Regions from separate parts of the Homo sapiens genome. Here all the other regions are linked to region 2. The links come from fine-mapping of genetic effects on gene expression. A gene starts in region 2. Each other region holds a variant in brackets. All regions are shown on one strand. Distances are from middle to middle.

Region 1 (8,179 bases), 240 kb after region 2:
TGCCTTGTGGTCCTAGCTACTCTGGAGGCCGAGACAGGAGAATCACTGGAACCTGGGAGGCGGAGGCTGCAGTGAGCCAAGATGGCACCACTGCACTCCAGCCTGAGCAAGACAGAGCGAGATACATCTCAAAAAAAAAAAAAAAGATGAAATAAATCTGTAGTCCCAAGTAGGAAGCTGAGGCAGGAAGATCGCTTGAAACCAGGAGTTCGAGGCTGCAGTGAGCTATGATCACACCTGTGAATAGCCATTGCACTCCAGCCTGGGCAACAGCAAGATCTCTAAAAGCAAAAGAAAAGAATGGTTACAAATAAATGTATCCTGCAGGGTGGTCCTGAGGAACACTGATGGTGTTGGAGAACATCTGATTCAGGGTGTGGTGTACATTGGGCTTTCAGCTGATGGGCTACGTAACTGGGTATGAGACTGCAAAGCCAGACGGAGCTGGCATATGGTGTTTTTTTTTTTTTTTTTTTGAGATAGACTTTCGCTCTTATTGCCCAGGCTGGAGTGCAATGGCGCGATCTCGGCTTACTGCAACCTCTGCCTCCTGGGTTAAAGCGATTCTCCTGCCTCAGCCTCCTGAGTAGCTGCGATTACAGGCATGTGCCACCACACTCGGCTAATTTTGTATTTTTAGTAGAGACGGGGTTTCTCCATGTTGGTCAGGCTGGTCTCGAACTCCTGACCTCAAGGTGATCTGCCTGCCTCAGCCTCCCAAAGTTGTAGGATTACAGGCGTGAGCCACCAGGCCCGGCTGAGCCGGCATACCTTATATGAAGCTGTGGCAGGGACACGTGGGCTGGGTGCTGACACAAGTGTCCAGAGCTGTCCTTCTGCTCAGCCAGGGAGGCCGGAGGAACTGATCTGGGAGGCAAAGGGTGCAACTCGATTGATCCAAATATATACGTCCACTCACTGACACTTAGGGGAGGGGTTCCAAGCAGAGGGCAGGAGGGCAGCACCAGCGAGGATTCCTCAAGTATTGTCATCCCAGGCCTGCAGAGAGGAGAATGGAAGGGTTTTAGGCAGGGGAGATACAAAGTCATCGCAATCTGTATTCTAGGAGCATCCCCTACTCTGTGGAGATGGGGTAAGGGGAGCAGGATAGGGATTGAGAAGCCGTTGTGGCTGGGGAGAAGAAAACGAGGTATAGGCCGTGGGAGGAGTGGGGAGGAAGGGTCTGAGGTGCTACCCATCTCTGGCTGGGTCCCTGTCACTGGGTGGCAGGGAGCAGGGTCTTGGGTATGGTCTGGAACCAGAGGACGTGTACTTGTGGTCATAAGGCTGGGGGAAAAGATTCCAGGGCCCTGGAGAAAGTCAGTGCTTGAGGTGTGGACAGGAAATTTCGGAGGAGGGCTCAGGCGCCCATGAGGTCAGGAGGCTCTAGACAGAGAGCCCCAGAGCCACCAGAGGAAAAGGAACTCGAGAGAAAGATGGAGGAGCAAACAGAGGGAGGGGAAGGGGGCAGGAGGTGCAGCTCCCCCAAGAGGGGGGGCAGGAGGTGCAGCTCCCCCAAGAGGGGTGGCAGCCCTCTTGGGAAGATGAGGACAGAGCCCCAGGGAGGCCTGGGGTTGGCAAAGGGAGCCTGCAGTTTCTTTGTGGGTGCGGGGGCCTCAAGGGCTACGAGTCTGAGCTGTGCGTGTGTTTGGACAAGTCCCCAGAGTGTGTGTCTTCCTGGGGTTCCTAGACTGCGAGTGGCAGTGGCCCGGCGGCGGAGGCCGTTTGGATCCCTGTGTGAGCTGTAGGGGGCGCCCTGGGCGTCGGGCCCAGGTCAAGTGCGAGATAGGAACGGGGTGCGGGGGCCGATGAGAGCTCCCCGCGGGAATGTCCGCTGTGGACGCCCTCGGAGGCCCCATCTAACTCCAGGGCGGCGAGCGTGGCCGGGCCCAGTTCACGGGCTGCTCGAGCCCTGACGAGGCAGCTGGGGGCTGTCTGGCGTCCACGCTCACGTTCTGGGCCGGCGGACCCCGTACCGGCCAGGCCGTGGCGGCCACGGGGGCCCGGAAGCGCCGCCGCCAGCTGGCCCCGCACGGAACTGTGTCCCGACGCGGCGCGCGCTGTCGCGATCCGGCGGCGGGTGACGTGGCGGGGCGGGGCCTGAGCTGCCGCGGCGGCGGCGGCGCGACCGAGCATCCTGGCGGCGCCGGGCCACTGGGAGGTAACGGGCTGGGCCATGGGCGGGCGCGCCGGGAGCGGGGCCGGGGCTGGGCCGCGTTCTGTGGGAGCCGAACCCTGTGGGTCTTCGCTGCCGCCGTCGGGAGCGGGATGCGGCCCAGAAACAGCGCGGGGCTGGCCGATCGGGGCCGCGCGAGAGGCGCTGCGGGTGAGGGGGGGCGCCACGAGGAGAGAGGGACCTCGAGCGTGAGGGCCGAGTGTGGGAGAAACGCTGTATGGGTGCGAGCCCCGGAGGCTGATGGTGACCGCGAGGGAGCCAGTCTTGGGGTGTGCTGGCGACGCGGCGAGTGTGAGGGAGACCGGGGGTGTGTGTGGAGAGGGAAACCCCAGGTGCGAGGGTGACCGGGACGCTGAGTGCGCGGGCCGCGCCGCGAGCGTGAGACTGTGCGACGGTGACCCTGAGTGGGGCTGTGACTGCGCCTCCGACTGCAGGACGGAGAACCTGTGCTGTGTGGCGGCCGCGGTGGGGCAAAGAAAGACGCGGGCTCAGGACCTCAGGAGCCAGGCTTCCTGGGGCTGTCGCAAGAATGACGATTATCATTTTAAAATCAGTCCTTTTACTTTAGAGAATGCCGCAAGGTTTTGTGGCGTGCTGGAGCCTGGAGCGTTGGGCTGCTGGCGCTGGGGAACCCGCGTGCCCCTGGTGATTATGGCTCTTTTGAGCGTCCCTATAGCCTGTCATCTTGTGTGACTATCTCTCCTGAATGTGGGGAGATAGACGTGAAACATTCTGAAAATTCTTTGCTGGGCTCTAAGCAAACATGTTGTGTAATGGTCAGTATAAATAGGAATCAGGGTGTCGGCGAACACGTTTTTGAGTACCTCTTGTATGCCCTGGGCTTGGTGACACAGTTAAAAAGAATTCAGTCTCTGCCCTTGATAGGGGAAAAAGCCAGGGCAGCTCATCTCGCAGGGCGGCTGTTCAGTGCCCAGCCATCCGGGGCTTGTCTCTCAGAACTGCTCCCAGATTTCAGATCTGGGAGGAGCAGACTTGAAAGGCTGTGAGTACTTCCTTATATCAGTTCCACCTCTTTTTGGTGGCGGTGAGGCCTTTTGGGGACCTGCCCAGGCTGCCTGCATTACTCAGGTCCCATGTGTGCTGCGCAGACGGCTTTTGCTTCCCAACTTTGATCTCAGATCGTTATTCAAGTCGTTACACTGGAGTTTATTTTCCTGGCAAGTGTGTGGAAAACCACCAGCCTGATTTTCTCCTCTCTTCCTCTCCTTGTCCTCCTTCCCTATTTGGCCGTGGATGTATTTTTATTGCATATACCGGTTTTATGATCCCCATCTCCCTGGAACTTCTTAGTAGAAGAAATTTCCTGACCTTTGTGCTTCCTGCTGTAATTTCTTGGATGTATATTAGTTTCTAAAAAAGTTATGCAGGCCGGGCGCGGTGGCTCAGTCCTGTAATCCCAGCACTTTGGGAGGCCGAGGCAGGCGGATCACGGGGTCAGGAGATCGAGACCATCCTGGCTAACATGGTGAAATCCCGTCTCTACTAAAAATACAAAAATTGAGCCAGGTGTGGTGGTGGGCACCTGTAGTCCCACCTACTCGGGAGGCTGAGGCAGGAGAATGGCTTGAACCCGGGAGGCGGAGGTTGCAGTGAGCCAAGATTGCGCCATTGCACTCTAGCCTGGGCAACAGAGCGAGACTCCATCTCCAAAAAAAAAGAAAAAAAGTTATGTAAACGGTGCCCACGGGACCTGGGGCCCCAGAGCTGCCTAGACTTACATGATTTAATGTGACAAGGCCAGTTCTCTGACAGGTTTGGGCTGGCTACTTCAGTTATACCCACCCTGTGGGTGTCATGGAACCTGCTAGTAATTAGGACTGCCCCTGCCGGGCATGTAAAATTTAGATTTTACAAGGAAATATCATTCTGCTGCTTTCTTGGTTAATTAAAAATAATTA[CAT/C]ATATATATATATTTAAATCAGCTTTCTCAGGTTAAAAGAGTTCATTTTTTGATCAGTTCCCTCCCACTCTTTGTTGCAGAGTTTATGTGGCCGAGGCAGACAAGTGGAATTAGGCCTTGCTGCAGGGGACTTCATTTCCTTCTCAGTACTGGACCCATTTATGAGGAGGTGGCTTATGAAAGTGTGATGTTCGCGTATTTCTTGACAGGTGAATATTGTTGCGCTGTCTTTTCTTTTGTTTGTGTGATTTACAAAGAGTTTTTACTTGTATACAGTGTGAATACAATACTAGTAAACAGAATGGCTTACACATAATTAACAACTCTTTAGTATTACATATTAAATAACACTGTAATTTATTATAAAAATAAATTATACATTTATTTATATTACAATTCTTTATAAAGAGTAATTGTGGTGGGTTTTTTCTTTTTTTTTGGAGACAGTGTCTCACTCTGTCACCCAGGCTGGGGTGTGGTGGCGCAATCTCTGCTCACTGCAACCTCTGCCTCCTGGATTCAAGCGATTCTCCTGCCTCAGCCTCCCAAGTAGCTGGGATTACAGGCGCCCGCCACCATGCCCAGCTAATTATTGTATTTTTAGTAGAGACGGGGCTTTACCATGTTGGCCAGGCTGGTCACGAACTCCTGAGCTCAGGCAATCTGCCCGTCTCAGCCTCCCAATTGTGGTGGATTTTTTTTTTTTTTTTTTTTTTTTTGAGAAGGAGTTTCGCTCTCATTGCCCTGGCGGAGTGCAATGGTGCGATCTTGGCTCACTGTAACCTCCACCTCCCGGGTTCAAGTGATTCTCATGCCTCAACCTCCCGAGTAACTGGGATTACAGGTGCCCACCACCATGCCCGGACAATTTTTTGTATTTTTAGCAGAGATAGGGTTTCACTATGTTGGCCAGGCTGGTCCCGAACTCCTGACCTCAGGCGATCCACCCGCCTCAGCCTCCCAAAATGCTGGGATTACAGGTGTGAGACACCGCGCCTGGCCATAACTCAGAGAGTTTTATAAGAAAAAGTCCTCTGTGTTTTCACCATAGTTAAGATTTTGATTCAACCAGAGGGGGGAATAAAAAGATTTTGATGTATTTCTCTGTGATATAGCAAAATATTTTTTGGTCTTCAGCCCGTTTCCTAGCATACAACTCCTAAAATACTTAGAAAGATCAAAGTAATGTCTTTTTGTATGCTGATGGCTGGTGGCTGGCAGCCCCTAGAAAGCTTCAGGATGGGGGCTGGTCACTGGAAAGACCAAGTCAGGATTAGAGGGTTGGGACTTTGAGCCCTACCCCCAACCTCCGGGGAGGGGAGAAAGGAGGAGGGTGAGGTTAAGTTGATCACTAATGGCCAGTGGCTTAATCACTCATGCCTATGTAATGAAGCCTCTATAAAAACCCAAGAGGCTGGGGGTTTGGGGAGCTTCCGGATAGCTGGACATGTGGAGGTTCCTGGATGGTACTTCTCCCTGGGAGGACAAGGAAAGTCTGTGACCCTTCCCCCATATGTGGCTCTGCAAACCTCTTCATCTGTATCCTTTGTAATAGCCTTTATAATATACAAGTAAAGGTAAGTAAGTGTTTCTCTGAGTTCTGTGAGCCGCTCTAGCAAATTAATTGAACTGAAAGAGGAGTCTTGGGAGCCCCAACTTGAAACAGTTCGGTCAGAAGTTCAGGAGGCTTGGATTTGTGCCAGGTATCCTGTTGGGGAGGGGCAGTCTTGTGGAACTGAGCCCTTCTGCTGTGGGATCTGATGCTGTCTCCAGGTAGATAGTGTTGGGATTGAACTGGAGGACACTCAGCTGGTGTCCCTGGGGAGAAATGATTGCTTGTTAGTGGGGAACCCTCCCCCTCCGGCATTTGGTCACAGAACTCTTCTGTGTTGATTATTGTGGTGTGAGAGTACACAGTAAAAATGGTTTTGAGTTTTTCCAAACATTCTCAATAGCATTTTTTCCTTTAGTCATTACAAAAATTTTGGTTTCAAATCCACTTTGTAAAACTTCCTTTGTAATCGAGCTTTTCCCCCCTTTCATCCCGTTTTCTGATGTAATTGAATTGTGATAAATTCATTTATTCCAAAAATTGCTTGTGGCAGTTTCGTGGTTAAATTTTCATGGGGAAATTTTGGTAGTCTGTTAAATTCCTTTATTACCTGCTGCAGGAGACTGCAGGAATTTAAAATTTTTAAAAATTTTTTTGTTGGCTGGGTGTGGTGGCTCACGCCTGTAATCCCAGCACTTTGGGAAGCCGAGGCAGGCGGATCACCTGAGGTCCCAGGAGTCCGAGACCAGCCTGACCAATATGGTGAAACCCCGTCTCTACTAAATACAAAAAATTAGCTGGGTGTGGTGGCGCATGCCTGTAATCCCAGCTACTCGGAAAGCTGAGGCAGGAGAATAGCTTGAACCCAGGAGGCGGAGGTTGCAGTGAGCCAAGATCGCGTCATTGCACTCCAGCGTGGGCAACGAGCGAAACTCCGTCTAAAAAAAAAAAGAGCAAAAATACGTATTAAAAAATATTTACCTAGGCTATTTGATATTGCCCCACAGGTTGATGTTCTGTTCTATTTTTTCACTTTCTCCATTTTGACCCTTTTGGTTTTCATCTCACTGCTAAAGTTCCACATTTGTTTCTGCATGCTGTTCAACTTTTTCAGTAGAACCTTAAATGTATCAAACACAATTATTTTAAATTCCTTGTTTGATGTTTCCATTATCTGGGTCATCTCTCAATATGGTCCTATTGATTACTTTTCCTCTTGATAGTGGGTTGTTTTTCTTGCTTTTTTTATGTTGCTTGTAACTTGTTACTGATTGCCAGATACCGTGTGTGGAACAGTAGAGACTGAGGTATATAGTATTTATTTTGGGAACTGGGTACAGCTCTTCTTTGCTAGACTGTTTGTATGGGAGTTTGAACTCCTAGTCAGGAGACAGTAGTGTTTGGGTGTTATTGTTGCTATGGTTACGTTAGGTGCACCAATGACTTCAAATTCTTCTCATGTTTCCTTGCCAGCTTACGGTTGGTTTGCAGGAGGGAGGCTTTTTCTCAGTGGTTATCCTCCATCCATACCCTCAGTTTATTAGCCAGGCATGGTAGTGCACACCTGTAGTCCCAGCTACTTGGGAGGCTGAGGCAGGAGAATCCCTCGAACCCAGGAGGTGGAGGTTACAGTGAGCCAAGATTGTACCACTGCACTGCAGCCTGCGTGACAAAGCAAGACTCTGTCTCAAAAAAAAAAAAAAGAAAGAAAAAAGGTCTCACTCGGTCATCTCACTCTGTCACCAAGGCTGGAGTGCCCGTAGTGCCATCATGGTTCACTGCAGCCTCCCAACTCCTGAACTCAAACTTACCTCTTAGCTTTCTGAGTAAATAGCTGGGGCTATAGGCGTGTGCCATCATGCCTGGCTACTTTTTAATTTTTTTTTGTAGAGATGGGGTCTTGCTATGTTGCCCAGGCTAGTCTCGAACTCTTGGCCTCAAGTTCCTCCAGCCTTAGCCTCCAGAGTAGCTGAGATTACAGGTGTAAGCCACTGCGTCCAGCCACCCTCAGCTTTAGGATTTCTCTGTGCACCTATGCCTCAGTGCACAGTCTCAGTGGTAGACTACTGTTGCTTGTTCCTGGGTGCTTGCTAACCTGGTGGTAGGGAGTAGGGATTTCTCTGTTGTCTGGTTCAGCCTCAGTCTTAAGCAGGCCCTGTTTGTTTCCCTGGGTCTTGGGAGTGGATCTTTCTGGGTGCTCCTGCCCTTTTCCCAGGAGAAAGACACCTCCGGTGGTCTTGCCCAGAATTTCCTACCCCTCCTCCAGGCATAGAGGTTTTTTTTTTCTTTTATCCTGCCCCAGCTGCCTCAGGAGTGACAGAGTTTGCTGCCCTTTCCCAGGGGTTTATGGTTTTTATTCTTTAGAGGAGAAGGGTATAGGTTGGCCTTTGTATTTTCCCTCCCATAAGCCAGCACTACCAAGAGCGGTTTTCTCAGGTTACTTGCCCAGTATTTCTTCTGAGTAACCACTGAGGTCTATGGAAAAAACCTGAGTGTCTGTGGCTCTTACTAACCCACACTTGACATTTGG
Region 2 (8,179 bases):
GTGCACCTCTAATCCCAGCTACTCAGGAGGCTGAGGCCCGAGAATTGCTTGAACTTGGGAGGCAGAGGTTGCAGTGAGCCGAGATTGTGCCACTGCACTCCAGCCTGGGTGACAGAGTTAAGACTCTGTTTCAAAAAAAAAAAAAAAGATAACAATACAAAATCATAACCTTATCATTACACTGCCCTCTCTTTAAATAGGCAAACAATGACAATCTTATCACTATGAAAGGATGAGGTTTAGCTCCCAGCAGCAGCCCAGGTCAGCACTGTGGAGAGGTACCAAAAGGTCATTAGGGCCAGGCGTGGCGGCTCACACCTGTAATCCTAGCACTTTGCGAGGTGGAGGCAGGAGTATCTCTTGAGCCCAGGAATTTGAGACCAGCGTGGGTAACATAGCTAGACCTTGTGTCTATTTTTTTTATATTTAAAAAAAGGCGATTTGGTCCTACTCAAAGGAAACAGGCAACTCTGCCCTTAGCCTGATCAGGACCACACTAGGAGCAGCCTTTGGTTCAGTGTGGCCAAGAACTTCCTACCAAAGAGAGATGACCTTAAGGAGAGGTCTCCCTATTACTGGCCTTGAAAAAGCAAACATGGGACATTTATTTAGTGGGGTTATTGCAGAGGGGATATGCCCAGGAGGTAGAGACGGCCCGATCTTTGGAGACTGGGTCACCCCGGTTGAGAATCATAGCACCTTCTCTCATAAGTTGCTTTAGTGTGGTGCTAATTGATGGCCTGCAGGGAGTGGTAGGAGGTAAAATATCAAGGGGATGGTTCCTGGGAAGTCTGTTCTGGCAGGAGGGCTAGCATGAGATCACTCAGATTCTCCAAGGCTCTGGAGAGAGTACTTGTCCGGAAGCATCCCTCTTGTCTTGTGGGGGTACAAAGCCTTACAGGAATTTGCTGGGACTCTGGGAAAGGCAGTACAGCATAGACAAATGGTTTATCAATTTGGGAGGGCCCAAGTATCACCTGGGGGAGTTTACAAAGAGTATTCTCAGGTCAAACTTTAGAGAGCTTAATCCCATCTGGAGTGGGGCTCAGGATTCTGTTATTTTTTTTGAGACAGAATATCAGCTCTGTCACCCAGGCTGGAGTGCAGAAGTGCAATTTTGGCTCACTGAAACCTTCGCCTCCAGAATTCAAGCCATTCTTGTGCCTCAGCCTCCCAAGTATTTGGGATTACAGGCGTGCACCACCACATTCAGCTAATTTTTTTGTATTTTTAATAGAGATGGGGTTTCGCATGTTTACCAGGCTGGTCTTAAACTCCTGACCTCAGGTGATCCTCCTGCCTCAGCCTCCCAAAGTGCTGGCATTACAGGCGTGAGCCACCACACCCGGCTTTTTTTTTTTTTTTTTTTTGAGATGGAGTCTTGCTCTGTCCCCTAGGCTGGAGTGTAGTGGTATGATCTTGGCTCACTGCAACCTCCGCCTCCCAGGTTCAAGTGATTCTCCTGCCTCAGCCTCCCGAGTAGCTGGGACTACAGGCGCGTGCCACCACGCCGGGTTGATTTTTGTAATTTTTTTTTGTGTATATATATATATACACATATATATATACACGTATATATATATACACGTATATATATATATACATATATATATATACGTATATATATGTATGTGTATATATATATATACGTATGTATATATATATATATATATATATATATACGTATATATATATATAAAGAAAATGCTATATGGTTATTTTTCCAGTTTTGTAAAACCGTTTAATCATCTCTCCTCTTTCTCGGCTACCGAGTTGGGATAGAAGGCAGAACCTGAAAATGTACAAGCAAAACTTCTGTGTTCGTCTACCCTTTACTTTTCTGCCAGTACCTTCCAGAGATTTCGCCAAGACGCCCGTTTGTCTTGGGCATTGTTAGAGAGTAACTCTGTCTACTGCTAGTCACATTTCCTTTCCTTTCCTTTCCCTGGGGGCTTAATGGATACCTTTTTGGGGGCAGGAAATACAAACTAAATGTTTATAAATGAAAACATCAACTGAAAGAGCCTTTGTCCTAGATGTGGAGGTTTGGTGTATGAATCCTCAGAAACTACTGAATTCCGCCCCGGTGCTAATTATTCTTAGGGGAGGCACATAAAAACATCATTTATTGTTAGAAATCATGACATGATACAAAGTCAAAATCCACTTGTGTCTTGCTAAAGACTACAGAAAGCCATGCTCAGCAGCTTCTTCTCCAATGCTGGCCAGCAGCGTACCTTTCCAAGTCACAAAGCAGTTCATCCCGCCCTCAAGGAGCCGACAGGGCAGCCCAGAGCCTCCCACTGACAAGTGTGGTCACCCACTCAAGATACTGGGAAAGATCCCTGTTCTAGCATCACATTTTAATCAGATTTGTCAAAATCAGGTTGCTTGGGGCAAAGGCTCTTTCACCGAGGATGCTAGTCCTGGAAGACTTCTCCTTCGGCGAGCCGCCAGCTCAATCTTCTGAACCAGGCTCACATCCCAGGGATGGGTCACAAAACTGATGACGGTGCCTGGCACCTCGCTCCCCACACGGCCCACTCTCCCTGCTCTGTGGATGTAATCTTGCAGCGTTGGGGGGAAATCATAATTGACAACCAGCTCCACACCAGTGCTGTCCAGGCCCCGAGAGGCTATGTCTGTGCAGAGAAGTATGTCTCGGGAGCTCTTCTGGAAGGACTGGAAGATTCCTACCCTCATCAAGGCTGGCATTTGCCCCTGCAACCTTAGGTGTTGGATTTTGTGGTCATCCAGAATATATCCCAGCCAGTTCACAGTGCTGGAGCTATTACAGAACACCAGAACAGTTCCTGAGGGACCAGTCCTTTCTGCTCTGTCACGATGCTTGAGGATGTGCACCAGCTCGGCCACCTTATCTGCTCCCTTCAGTCTCAGAAATGTCTGTTTCACATGAGGCATGATACAGTGGAGCTTGGAGCTGGTGATGGTGGTGACAGCATCTGGGCTGGCGACTTTATTCAGCAACTGGCCTACACCTTCGGGAAATGTGGCTCCTACCAGCACTAACTGAGCTTTGGGATTGAAGGGGTCTTCCAAGTCAGCTGGGCCTTCTGCTATGTGGCTCTTCTCTAAGATGTAGTCCACCAGTTCCAGGAAGCTTTCATCCAGCAGTGTGTCTGCCTCATCCAACACCAAGAAGGAGAGTTGCTCCAGACTGATCAGTCGACTTTTCAGGGCCTTCCACAGAGCCCCTGGAGTGGCCACAAGCACATCTGCTGAAGGCTGTCTGGACAGCTGCAGCCTGATCCTACGCATGCCGTGGCCTCCCTCCAGGTCCCGCACCAGCAGGCCCAAGGAGCGGCCCAAGGGTTGGGCCACAGCCCGCACCTGTTGGGCCAATTCTCGGGAAGGAACAAGGACCAGGCCTCGGGGCGCGGGGATAGGAAGGGAGTCCAGGCTTGGCTGGCCCAAGAGCCGTTGAAGCAGCGGCAGGAGGTAGCTGAGAGTCTTGCCACTGCCGGTTTCTGCGGCGCAAACGACATGGCGGCCGCGAAGTAGTGAGGGGATGGTGCTAGACTGCACGGTTGTGGGCTGAACGACTTCAGGCGCAGCCTCCTGTAGTGCGTGCAGCACACGGGGCTCCAGGCCCAGGTCAGCAAAGCTGCCCTTAGACGAGAGCTTTCGCACCGCTGGCGCCTCCTGTTGCGCGCGCTCGATGGAGAAGTGGTCCCGACGCGCGCGTCGACTCTTCCAGCCTTGAGAGGCTAGCGGCGCGCGCTCCCAACGGCCCAGTGTGAGGCGCGCCGGCTGGTTCAACTCCGGCCGCCGCGCCGAAACCAGCAGCGGTCCGGGTCGAACCAGCACCGGCCTCGGGAGGTTCCGCCGCCTGCTCTGCCGCTGTTCCAACTGCCGCTGTAGAGCCACTGGGATGCGCACCACCGGCAGGGGTTCGTCGGGACTGCGGACCGTGAGGCCCCGTCGCGGCGCCAGGAGCAACCGAGTCACGAGGGAAAAGAGCCGCACCGGCCGCGTTAGAGCCATGTTTCCCTTAGTGCGGGAGAAGCGCACATCAGTGACGTCACGGACGCGCCGCGACCTCGCGTACGGTGGCTGGCGAGGCTCAGTACGGTGTGTGGAGCTGGAGCACCGTGAGGAAGAAGCGAGGTTCTTTTTAAGAGTTCAGCTGCGAGGTCTGTAGCTCCGAATAGGGGATGGCGACATCCAGACCCGGCCAGCCTTGGGGAAGGGCGCGTCGTGGAGGCAGGACTGGAGGCTGGCGATACGAGGCGGCAGTGGGGCCTTGACCCAATGGACCATGAGGGCGGAGGGCTTCTGGCGATTGGTTACCTGGTTCCTGGGATTCTCTTTAGTTGTTCCTCATTGCCCTGAGATAGCTTGTCCCGTGCTGGTATCCGAGGTTGCAGCTGTTTTCCCAGATGTGTTCCCTGCGCAGGGTCTGGTAATCCGTGTTTATTGAGAGTTTGAATGAATGATCAGGCCTAGGGGCCGAGACAGGGGTCTGAAGTCATAGATCTGGGCTCAACCCCTCACCCTCTCTGTCTGTGAGCCCAGAGTGCAAGCTGATGGCTTTCAGCTTCTTCTCTCTCTCAAGTGGGAGATAAGGTCTTCAGGTTTTATTTCAAGTTGGGTCATCTTTTCTTCACAGTTATTTTCCTTCCTTTTAAGCCAAGGTTCACTCTCTACTCCCTCGTCACGCGTCCCAACTTCTCATCCAGAACCCACCCCTCTTGCAGCCCGCTCAGCTCCACTGGCTTCCCCGTCAGAAACCTGAATTACCTAAAATAGTAGTAAGAAGGGTGCTGCGACCCTACAAAGTGATCAAGTACGTGGCTTATCATGTAGCCCTGGTCAGGCAGAATATTTTACCTGAATTCAGATATTCGGGTTGTAAAAACAAGAACTATACGAGTCACTTTTTTTTTTTTTTTTTCTGAGACACAGTCTCGTTCTGTCACCCAGGCTGGAGTGCAGTGGCGCAATCTCGGCTCACTGCAACCTCCACCTCCTGGGTTCAGGTGATTCTCCTGCCTCTGCCTCCCAAGTAGCTGAGACTACAGCCGTACACCACCCACGCCCGGCTAATTTTTTCTGTTTTTAGTAGAGACAGGGTTTCACTATGTAGGCCTGGCTGGTCTCGAACTCCTGGCCTCAAGCGATCTTCCCACCTCGGCCTCCCAAAGTGATGGGATTATAAGCGTGAGCCACCATGCCCAACAGATACTTCTTGAACAGATCTGGAAAATGGGTGTCAGATCTTTTCTGTAATTTGCAGTGCCTGGGGTGGGAGATAAGGTAAATATTTATGGATTAACTCTCTGGGAGGTTCGTAACATCTGGAGAAAACGTTTTAGTTTCATCAAATACCAATGAAAAGATAAAAACTTTGCTTTTTTTGGAATAGTATGAGGAAAAACTTTCACAATTTTAAGTACACTCTACCCTTGTGCTACACAATTAGACTTTCTGGAGAGTTACCAGATAAATCAGAGGAAGAGAGGCTTTTTTTCTCCACAAGAAAATATCTGGAAGTAGGAAGAGAAAGTTTTGAGTAGTGATGGGTGAATGAACAGTCATTGGATAGGGTAGTGGTTCTAAAACAAGGGTGATTTTGCCCTTTCCCTCCCACCATATTTGACAATGGCTGGATACTTTTTTTTTTTTTTTTTTTATAGACAGTCTCACTGTGTTGCCCAGGCTGGAGTACAGTGGTGCGATGTCAGCTCACTGCAGTCTCTGCCTTCTGGGTTCAAGGGATTCTCCTGCATCAGCCATCTGAGTAGCTGGGATTAGAGGTGTGCGCTACCACTCCCAGCTAATTTTTGTATTTTTAATAGAGACAGGGTTTCACTACGTTGGGCAGGCTGGTCTCAAACTCCTGACCTCATGATTTGCCCACCTTGGTCTCCCAAAGTGCTGAGATTACAGGTGTGAGCCGCTGTGCCCGGCCCAATTCTATGCTACTTTTATGATTCTTTCCAAACTCAGGGCTTCTCCTTATCCAAATAGTTCCTTGGGGCCAGGCTCATGCCTGTAATCCCAGCTACTCGGGAGGCTGAGGCAGGATAATCGTTTGAACCCGGGAGGCGGAGGTTGTTGCAGTGAGCCGAGATCGCACCATTGCACTCCAGCCTGGGCGACAGGGCGAGACTCTGTCTCAAAAAAAAAAAAAAAAGGTCCCTTGGATGTTTGTCCCAACAGGTTTCATCCATTTCCATGTGCCACTGTTTTTCAGATATCAAACAAAGAATTACTCTGTACAAAGCCAGAACACATATATCAAAGTAATCCTGAAGTATCAGAACAAAATAATAGGTATGTATATGCATTTGGGTTTTTGGGTTTTGTTCAAATATCCAGGGTAGGGTAGCTGGTTAATATATAGTTGTTTTCTCATTATGCTTGAGTCCTTACAATATGATTACCTCAAAATTTCACAGGAGTTAGAGCTTGCCTAAGCCTGTCTGTGTCCGTGGCCACTAATTTCTTCTTGTCACATCACTAGACACTGCCTACCTTTTTTCCCCCTCACTCACAGAGGACATTGATTAACTTCTAAATGTTTTCTGAGATATTTTTATAAGTAGTGCTTTAGAAATAGGAAAGGTATCCTTATTGTGAAAAAAAATCTAAGCTCCTGAGATCAGGAGCTTGGTGTGTTCCTTGGATCTCAGTTAATAATGGTATATTCATTCATTCATTCAATCATTCATTCAACAAATACTTCCTGAGCACCACGCATGTGCCAGGCATTGGTAGTGAGGAAAACAGCCAAAATCCCTGCCCTTGTGGAGTTTACATTCTGATTTAATTGATTTGGGTTAAGGCCTAGACAAGGTCTTGCTCTGTCACCCAGGCTAGACTTCAGTGGTGCCATCTCGACTCACTGTAACCTCTGCCTCCCAGGTTCAAGTGATTCTTCTGCCTCAGCCACCCCAGTAGGTGGGATTACAGGCACGTGCTACCAAACCCGGCTAATTTCTGTATTTTTAGTAGAGATGAGGTTTTGCCATTTTGACCAGGCTGATCTCGAACTCCTGACCTCAGTTGATCTGCCTGCCTTGGCCTCCCGAAGTGCTGGGATTACAGATGTGAGCCATTGTGCCCAGCCGAGAAATTGGTATTTTTAGAAACCTCTCCAGATGTAACTAGGCTTGAGAATCACAGTTATAAATGAAGCACTTTGGGAATTGCAAAGCATTACAGCAATAAAAAGTGCTATTGGTATTACTTTATTGTTCCTCCATTTTCCCACCTGTAGCAGGGCTGTGCGCAGGTAATCATATTTTCAGTCATTATCACTATAGTATTCCTGGACCCTTTGACCTTCCTTCTCATCCAGCTCCCTACCTGCTCTTTGTTTTTTACCCTCTGGTCTACCTTCTGTTTCCCGAGTGATGTTATTAAAGCACAGCTAGGCCTGGTGTGGTGGCTCACGCCTGTAATCCCAGCACTTTGAGAGGCCAAGGCGGGCAGATCACGAGGTCAGGAGTTCAAGACCAGTCTGGCAAACGTGGTGAAACCCTTTCTTTACAAAAATACAAAAATTAGCTGAGCATGGTGGCAGGCACCTGTAATCCCAGCTACTCGGGAGGCTGAAGTGGAAGAATTGCTTGAACCCGGGAGGCGGAGGTTGCAGTGACCTGAGATTGTGCCATTGCATTCCAGACTGGGTGATAGAGCAAGAGTCTATCTGAAAAAAAAAAAAAAAAAAAAAGCACAGCTATGGCCATGTTACCCTTTGACTCAAAAGCCATTCATGAATCCTTGTTGCCTGCAGATTATTTCCTAATCAGTATCCAGAATTGGGCTCAACCTCTTCTGTTGCTTTCTTATGTGAATCTTGTTCACTCAAGTGATGGCTCCATGCAAGTTGGCCAAAGGGCTTGTAGTCCTTTACTGGGTAAGCCAGAGATTGGAGTAGTCATTCGTCTCCTCTAAAACCAAACTTGAGTGATAACAAAGCACTTTAAATGCACTTTGGCTGGGATAGAGTTCTTCTGTGACTGAAGCATGGAGTGGATCATAGCTCTTGTTGCACTTGGTCCATTAACTTCTTGTTTTTTTTTTTTTTTGGAGATGGAGTTTTGCTCTTGTTGCCCAGGCTAGAGTGCAGTGGCATGATCTCAGCTTACTGTGACCTCCGCCTCCCGGGTTCAAGTGATTCTCTTGCCTCAGCCTCCCAAGTAGCTGGGAT
Region 3 (8,179 bases), 42 kb after region 2:
GGTTGTGCATGCCTGCAATCCTGGCTACTCAGGATGCAGAGGAAGGAGAATCACTTGAACTGGGGAGGTGGAGGTTGCAGTGAGCCGAGATTGCGCCACTGCACTCCAGCCTGGGTGACAGAGCGAGAATCTGTCTCAAAAAAAAAAGAAAAAAAATTATCACACTTCAGTCCCAGATGTTATGGGCACAGATACTGCTGCCCTCCTACTTGTTTAAAAGAAGTGCCGGTTGCCAGTGGGCCTTGGTCCCTTGGAAGTGAGTGCCGGGGTGACGCTCAGTTGCCAGACCCCATCCCATGGAGAGGGCCATAGTGTCTCCCAGATGTAAGAAGACCTTTTGTGTGTTTCTCCTTAGGGAGGAATGGGAGCTGCCCTGCTGTCAGACCCTGACAAGATTGAGAAGGTAAGTCCTCCACGAGTGAAAGCAGGGGTCCTCAAACACAGCTCCAAACTAGAATTGTCTAGAACGCCTCCTTCCACCAATACCAGATTTACTGATGTCCACCCAGTTTCTCTCCCTGAGGCCTAGCGATTTCCAAAAAATTTTCCAGTGATTTTGACATGCAGCTAAGTTTGGGAACCCCCGAGCCAGCCTACAGCAGCCTTGATGTTCCTAAAAAGCCCAGAGCAAGAGACATGTCAATGAAGAGCCAGGGGTCCTGAGGACTCACAGAGAACCTCCTCTGTATTTCCTGTCTCCCTTCTGGGAAGGTCTTGAGAGCAGAGGCCAGCCCACCTGTGGTGAGGACGGGCTCAGTGGCCATATGTGTTTGTATGTGTGTGGGTGGATTGGCCTCTCCCAGGGGGCTTGATGAGAGGAGCAGTGGGTCCCCTATGTCCTGAAAGAGTCTACCCCAGCCCTTGGAGAGAAGCCCGGGCCAGGGTCAGAGGAGGCAAGCTGAAGTTAGTCTCTCTCTGTTCCCCTTTCTTTGGTGATTCTGTAGGCTAGCTTAATGAGGCCCTGGGGACAGGTTTGTGTTCCTCTCCCAGTCTGCCAGCTCTTTCCTTTTAGCTCCTTTGTTTTCCTTTTCATTCTCTATCGCTACTTCCCTGTCTGGGCTTTAAGCCTCATCCTGCTTCCCAGAGGCTAGAGCGACTTGGGACTTAGGCATCACCAATGAGAGCTGCCATCATTGCCAATGAGAGCTGCATGGTTGCTGTGCCAGCAGCCCAACCCTGCATGTTCCTCCAGCCCCACTGTCTCTGGGACATAGGAAGACCACTGTGCTTGCTGGCTACATGCCTTCTCGTTTTTCCCATGTGCAGCCAGAGATACTCTATCTATAGTGCACCTGTATAATGTGCCTTTCTTTTTTTTGAGACAGAGTCTTGCTCTGTCACCCAGGCTGGAGTGCAGTGGCACAATCTCAGCTCACTGCAACCTCTGCCTCCAGGTTTCAAGCAATTCTTCTGCCTCAACCTCCTGAGTAGCTGGGATTACAGGCGCCCACGACGACGCCTGGCTAATTTTTGTATTTTTAGTAGAGATGGGGTTTTGTCATGTTGGCCACGCTGGTCTTGAACTCCTGACCTCAGGTGATCTGCCCATCTTGGCCTCCCAAAGTGCTGGGATTACAGATGTGAGCCACTGTGCCCAGCCATAATGTGCCTTTCATTTGATCCTGAAACCCCTTGAAGTAGATAGGATTGGCAGTTATCTCCATTTGATCAAGGACAATAGACTAAAGCACAGAGAGAGAAAATAATTTGCTTAAGATCATATAGTAGGCCGGGCGTGGTGGCTCATGCCTGTAATCCCAGCACTTTGGGAGGCTGAGGCGGGCAGATCACAAGGTCAGGAGATCGAGACCATTCTGGCTAACACGGTGAAACCCAGTCTCTACTAAAAATACAAAAAATTAGCTGGGCGTGGTGGCGGGTGCCTGTGGTCCCAGCTACTCAGGAGGCTGAGGCAGGAGAATGGCATAAACCCGGGAGGCAGAGGTTGCAGTGAGCAGAGATCGTGCCACTGCACTCCAGCCTGGGCGACAGAGCAAGACTCCGTCTCAAAAAAAAAAAAAAAAAAAAAAGATCATATAGTAAATAAGTGGCAGGCAGAGCCAGCTTGTGAACTATAGTCTCTTCTGACTCCTAGTGTCAGCACCCTCTCCAGTAGCATCTCAGGTTCAAGGTGCCTGGGTATAGTTTATAAGTGTCAGGTCAATAGGCACCTCAACTTGGAAATCTCCAGTTAAGACACTTGTGTGCAGGGTGGAGTGGAAGTAGACATCTTGGATGTCAAATTGGTTTCCACACCTAGGAGAGGGGGCCCCAGCAGGGAGGATGTGGTTCACAACATGAGCACACAGGCATTTTTGTTATCCTCCAGCCTCCTCTCTTCTCAGACCCAGGCTGTTGGCTCTGTCCTCTCTACTGCCCCTCTTTGAATAAGGCAGATTTCATCCATGAGGCAGCAGAGATACACTCAACCTCAGAAGCTTAGTTCATTTCACTACTTCTCTGGTTGGGTACTCAGATGGGCCAGGTTGGACTGATAGATGGGGTTTGCCCCATGGTAGGGAGGTTGCAGGCTTCCACAACAAAGCCAGATGTGGCTTAGGTGTAGGGGCTGGATTCAATTCGGGTCCAGACTGTGTTGGCAAGCTGGGTGACCTGGGTGAGAGCTTTGCGGGTCCTTCCAGGCTTGGCGTTTTAGGCCCGTGGTTCCATCTGTGGGAGTATCTCAAGACCACCTCTAGAAATTTTCTCAAGATTCTTGTTTGGGGTTATGAAAAACTTTGGAAATACATAACATTGGTGGTTGTACAACATTGTGAATGTAATTAATGCCACTGAATTATACACTTAAAAATGTTTAAGATGGCAAATTTCATGTTATATATATTTTACCCCAGTTAGAAATAAAGGATGCTATCTGTTGAGAATTCTGCAGACCCTTGGGGTGAGTAGGGGTGGAGAGTGGGATATCAATCTCTTTGAGAAAGCTTCTACCAGGTAACTCTGATATATGCTCCCTGGATTAAGAACCTCAGTTTTATTTTATTTTTTTAAATATTTATTTATTTATTTTGAGAGGGAGTCTTGCTCTGCTGCCCAGGCTGGAGTGCAGTGGTGCGATCTCAGCTCACTGCAACATCCACCTCCTGGGTTCAAGTGATTCTCCTGCCTCAGCCTCTGAATAGCTGAGATTACAGGCATGCACCACAACACCCGGCTAATTTTTGTATTTTTAGTAGGTACGGGGTTTCACCATGTTGTTCAGGCTGGCCTTGAACACCTAACCTCAGGTGATCTGGCCTCCAAAAGTGCTGGGATTACAGGTGTGCGCAGGGCATCCCCCTTGTGTACACTGTACTTGGGCCATGGCTGACAATTGGCAGGGCCAGGACATGAACTCAGGTCTCAGTGCTTTCCAGGCCTATGCTTTCCTATCCTCATCTGCTGCCTCCCAGAAACCAGGGGAGTGAAGGAGACTGCTTTTCTTCAGTTGGCCAGTGGGTCTATTGAGGCAAGCCTGCTTGTAGGTAGATGTGCTGTTCCTCTGCTCAAATATGGACTTGTCTCTCATTCTTTCTCCCCAAAGACTTGGATCTGGAGAGTTGGTGTCCAGGAGAGTGTCATGCTAGAGCCTGGCCAGAAGACAATCTCTAGTTGCCATTTCCCCTCAGTGTGACCCTTGCAAGTGCCTAGGGTTTTTGGTTACCTAATTTCCTTCCTAGTCCTTAACACACACATGAAACACACAGAAATACTGAAGAAAGTACTGAGAGCTACTTGGATAAAATAGCAAAAGGAAGTTCTACAAGACAGAGAATTGGATCAGACCAGCTGGTGTTGCTTAAATCACCAAATGTCAGAGGATTCTAAGTGAGCACTTGTAATGGAACCTTTTAGAGATGTTGCTCTGAGCATGAAGGATGGGACTAGAATGAGAATTTTTATTGTATTTCTTGATGAACCTGTCAGTCCCGCCCTTAAAATGTAAGTGCCTCTTTAAGGCCTGCCAGGGTGACCCTAAGACCTCAGGCCAAGTCTGCCTCCTGGAGCAGCACCTAGAGACTGTTCCTTCCTGCCAGTCCCTGGCATTTGGGCCAGCAGGTCCTGTCTTGCTCATGAACTGTCTGTCAGTCCAGCCTCTTGATCTGATGTCTTCTGGAATGGCCTGCTTCATCCTGTCCCTGATAGGCCTCCACTACTGGTTTTTGCAACCTGGCTCTCTGCTGCCCCCGCCTGTCTAGAATCAAGACTGGCAGCAGCCACCTAGATATCCCCCTGCTCTGCTAGGCAGAGATCCAGTTCTTGGAAGAGGGTTCTTGGGATCATCTTTCCTCCAGCTTGCCTGGCCTGAAATTTCTGATGAGGGAAGAAGATAGCAATGACACAGACATGCAGTGTCATCTACACCTCTCTATCTCTGATTCTTGTGTGGTCTGGTCTTGCTACCTCCCTGTCACTTTCCTGCGTGACTTCTTGATCTTTCTTTGAAATCTTTTGCAATTGCTATGTGATAAGCACTTTTAAATATGTGCTTATCTTATGAGTATGTTGTCTTTTCCTTTGCCAGTTTCACTCATGTATGTCTGACTGCCCTAAAGAGGAATGCAGGCCCCCCTTAAGAGCCTTCCTGTTCCCTCACCCTGTAAGTCCTGGAACAACACTTAGGGAACATTCCCTTCACCCAGGAAAGAAGCTGTCT[G/GC]CCCCCCCGCTTTTTTTTTTTTTAATAGAAACAGGGATGGGCTAGGTGCAGTGGCTCAAGCCTGTCATCCCAGGACTTTGGGAGGATAAAACAGGTGGATTGCTTGAGCTCAGGAGTTCGAGACCAGCCTGGCCAACATGGTGGTCCCAGCTACTCTGGAGGCTGAAGTGGGAGGATGGCTTGAGCTAGGGAGGCAGAGGTTACAGTGAGCCAAGATTGTGCCACTGCACTCTAGCCTGGGAAACAGAGCCAGACCCTGTCTCAAAACAAAACAAACAAACAAACAAACAAAAAGGAAACAGGGTCTTGCTGTGTTGCCCAGGCTGGTCTCAAACTCCTGGCTTCAAGCAATCTTCCCACCTCAGCCTCTCAAAGTGTTGGGATTACAGGCATAAACCACCACACCCAGTTAGCTATGTGTTCTTTTTTTCTTACTTTTTTTTTTTTTTTAGCCGTGTGTTCTTAACCAAGGCTAGGCCTCAGAATGATTCTGAGGACGGGCTGGAGTGTGTTGGGCAGAGCCTTTTGAAAACACACATTCCTAAGCCCTTCCCCTAGAGACTGACTCAGGAAATAATAGTGTGGAATTCAAGAGTGTGTATTTCTTCAGTTCTCCAGATAATTCTGGTATTTGTCCTGGCAAAGGCTCAGTGAGCTGCACACAGGTGTACACGCGTACCCATTCACTCACTCATTCAGTATATTTGACAAATATGTGTATACCACTAGGTGCCAGGCAGGTGCTGGGGCTCCAGTATAGAACAAAGGCAGGTCCCTTGCCTCATGGAGCTTATGTGTGTATGTGTGTAACAGACACACACATGCATTCACACATATGCAAACTGTTCATGCCACCGGAATGCACAGCCTGTAGCGGAGTTAATTAGTACAGGCAGAGTGATGGTTTGTTCCAGAAGACATAGGTGCTCTTGTGTTTTCCTTTCTGCAGATCCTCAGCACTCTTGTTAAAGGGACACGCAGACCTGTGACCTGCAAGATTCGCATCCTGCCATCGGTAAGGATGGTGTGTTACATATGAAGGTCCATTCTCTCTGGTGATGTTGGATTTAGGTTTGTGAACGATTCTTGAGGTGCTAAATTAGGCTTGGAGGAGAGAGTAGAGCTGAGCCTACTTTAGGAGGCAGCAGCTGCTCCTTCTGGAGCTTCAGTAACCATCCTGTGTGGTCCTCCTCCTCAGCTAGAAGATACCCTGAGCCTTGTGAAGCGGATAGAGAGGACTGGCATTGCTGCCATCGCAGTTCATGGGAGGTGAGTGGTCACCTTTCTAGTGACTGGCAGGGAGGTCCTAACCCATCTTAGTGATCCTTCCTTAATTGATCTGTCACCCCAAGTGACAGCCAATTTCTCTTCTACATATTCAGCCTACCTCTGCCTAGCTCTTTGATATCTTATGAGTCTGGAGGGCAGGCAGACCCTGAATGGGCTTTTGCATTTGCCTTTCTTTCATTCATGGAGTGCCTATTGAGGGTAGGTACTGAGGTTTAGAGACACAGAGAGACTAAGAAAGGAGAAACACCTCTACTATCAGGATGTGTAAATGCTAGAGATTGAGTAATTTGCTCAAAATCATACCATGCAGCCAGTACGTGGTGGAATTCTGACCCTCATGAGAAAAATCTCATTTATTTCCTTCCCTCCCTCCCTCCCTCCCTTCCTTCCTTCCCTCCCTCCCTCCCTTCCTTCCTTCCCTCCCTCCCTCCTTCCTTCCCTCCTTCCTTCCTTCTTTCCTTCCTCCCCTCCCCTCCCCCTCCCTTCTCCCCTCCCTCTCCCATCTCCTCCCCTCTCCCCCCTCCCCTCCCATCTCCTCCCCTCTCCCCTCCCATCTCCTCCCCTCTCCCCTCCCATCTCCTCCCCTCTCCCTTCCCATCTCCTCCCCTCCCCCCTCCCCTCTCCTCTCCCCTCCTCTCCTCTCCTCCTCTTTGTCATTCTGTCACCCAGGCTGGAGTGCAGTAGCGCAGTCTTGGCTCACTGCAATCTCCATCTCCCGGGTTCAAGTGATTCTCCTGCCTCAGCCTCCCGAGTAGCTGAGATTACAGGTGCGCTCCACCATGCCCAGCTAATTTTTATATTTTTAGTAGAGACAGGGTTTCACCACGTTGGCCAGGCTGGTTTCAAACTCCTGATCTCAGGTGATCTGCCCACCTTGGCCTCCCAAAGTACTGGGATTACAGGCATGAGCCACCAGGCCCAGCCTCATTTTCTTTCTATTATATTGAGCAATGACTTCTCCCTTGAATAATCCCAGACAGACTGCTTTGTTTATGTGTTTTTCATTGTTGTTGTTGTTTTTTGAGACAGTCTTGCTCTGTTACCCAGGCTGGAGTGAAGTGGCACAATCATAGCTCACTGCAGCCTCAAACTCCTGGGCTCAAGTAATCCTCCTGCCTCAGCCTCCTGAGTAGCTGAAACTACAGGCACATGCCACCACACCTGGCTAATTTTTTATTTTTTTGTAGTGACGGGATCTCCTTATGTTGCCCAGGCTGGTCTCAAACTCCTGGGCTTAAGTGATCCTCCTGCCTCAGCCCCTCAAAGTGCTGGGATTACAGGCTTGAGCCACCATACCCAACCTATTCTTTTAAAGGCTCTGCCTCTCTTGTCTGCATTTGTTGGACTGCCAGCTGTCACAATGACTAAACAATCCTTCTAGCTGTAGCTAATGTACTCTATGCTGAGAGCTGAGGTTCTGAAGGCCACCCTTGGCTTACCATTCACACTTGTTCCCTGTGTCCAGGATGTGATTTTGTACAGCATCTCAGGTCAGTAGACTTGGGCCAGAGGGACCTCTCTTCTCTGAGTGATGTTCCTTTGGGCTTAGGGGTCTTATAGGAAGAGCCCAAGTTGTTGATTGTGCTCTTACAACATTTTCAGAGAAGGGAACCCAGAACTCCCTTCATACAAAGCAGAGCAAAGCAGAGTTGCTTGGGTTGAAGCCAGGAGGGAGGAGTACACACTTGTACACATATGCGCCTTCCCAAGGCAGCAGGCTTTGGATTCAGACTCCCTGGTTTGAGATCCCGGCTCTGCTGCTTGTTAGCTGTATATCCTTGGGAAATCACTTAACCTTTCTGAGCACAACATTCCTTGTTTAGAAATTAAGATAATTTCTACTTTATAGGGTTGTCCCAGGGCTTTTATGAGATTGTGAATATAAATCCTTGGCACAGTGCCTGGCATGTAGTATTCTTTCTCTCTCTTTTTTTTTTTTTTTTTTTTTTGAGACGGAGTCTTGCTCTGTTGCCCAGGCTGGAGTGCAGTGGCATGATCTCGGCTCACTGCAACCTTCGCCTCCTGGGTTCAAGCAATTCTCCTGCCTCAGCCTCCTGAGTAGCTGGGATTACAGGTGCCTGCCACCATGCCTGGCTTTTTTTTTTTTTTTTTTTGTATTTTTAGTAGAGATGGGGTTTCACCATGTTGGCCAGGCTGGTCTCAAACTCCTAACCTCAAATAATCCACCCACCTTGGCTTCCCAAAGTGCAGGGATTACAGGCGTGAGCCACC

Direction of the effects. Positions count from the first base shown, and alleles are read on the strand shown. Sizes are in standard deviations (SD) of each study's normalised expression.
As copies of CAT replace C in region 1, the expression in monocytes of the gene that starts at base 4,035 in region 2 goes down (large effect, 1.3 SD a copy in BLUEPRINT).
For the expression in monocytes after LPS of the gene that starts at base 4,035 in region 2, GC is the high allele of the variant in region 3 and G is the other (moderate effect, 0.57 SD a copy in Quach 2016).

The links. PIP is the estimated chance that this variant, and not a neighbour inherited with it, causes the effect.
Region 1: its variant is fine-mapped to the expression of DDX28 in monocytes (BLUEPRINT, PIP 0.95).
Region 3: its variant is fine-mapped to the expression of DDX28 in monocytes after LPS (Quach 2016, PIP 0.95).

The regions. Positions count from the first base shown.
Region 1 is chr16:68,262,416-68,270,594 of GRCh38, forward strand. It overlaps SLC7A6 (solute carrier family 7 member 6), which reads left to right and starts at 2,111. Exons shown (of 11, transcript NM_003983.6): 1 at 2,111-2,161; 2 at 4,178-4,306. It overlaps LOC124903704 (a long non-coding RNA gene), which reads right to left and starts at 2,042. Exons shown (of 3, transcript XR_007065096.1): 1 at 1,953-2,042; 2 at 772-999; 3 at 246-281. RefSeq lists a silencer at 1,997-2,276 and an enhancer at 2,649-3,848. The variant CAT/C (reference allele first, on the strand shown) is at 4,096.
Region 2 is chr16:68,019,198-68,027,376 of GRCh38, forward strand. DDX28 (DEAD-box helicase 28) reads right to left here and starts at 4,035. Exons shown (of 1, transcript NM_018380.4): 1 at 1,719-4,035. The coding sequence starts at 4,005. The coding sequence ends at 2,383. DUS2 (dihydrouridine synthase 2) reads left to right here and starts at 4,087. Exons shown (of 17, transcript NM_017803.5): 1 at 4,087-4,154; 2 at 6,218-6,297. RefSeq lists enhancers at 2,736-3,486, 3,487-4,237, 3,948-4,187.
Region 3 is chr16:68,060,711-68,068,889 of GRCh38, forward strand. It overlaps DUS2 (dihydrouridine synthase 2), which reads left to right. Exons shown (of 17, transcript NM_017803.5): 8 at 356-403; 9 at 5,607-5,672; 10 at 5,856-5,926. Among named protein-coding and RNA genes, the nearest start is that of NFATC3, 21 kb to the right of the region's middle. RefSeq lists an enhancer at 793-842. The variant G/GC (reference allele first, on the strand shown) is at 4,658.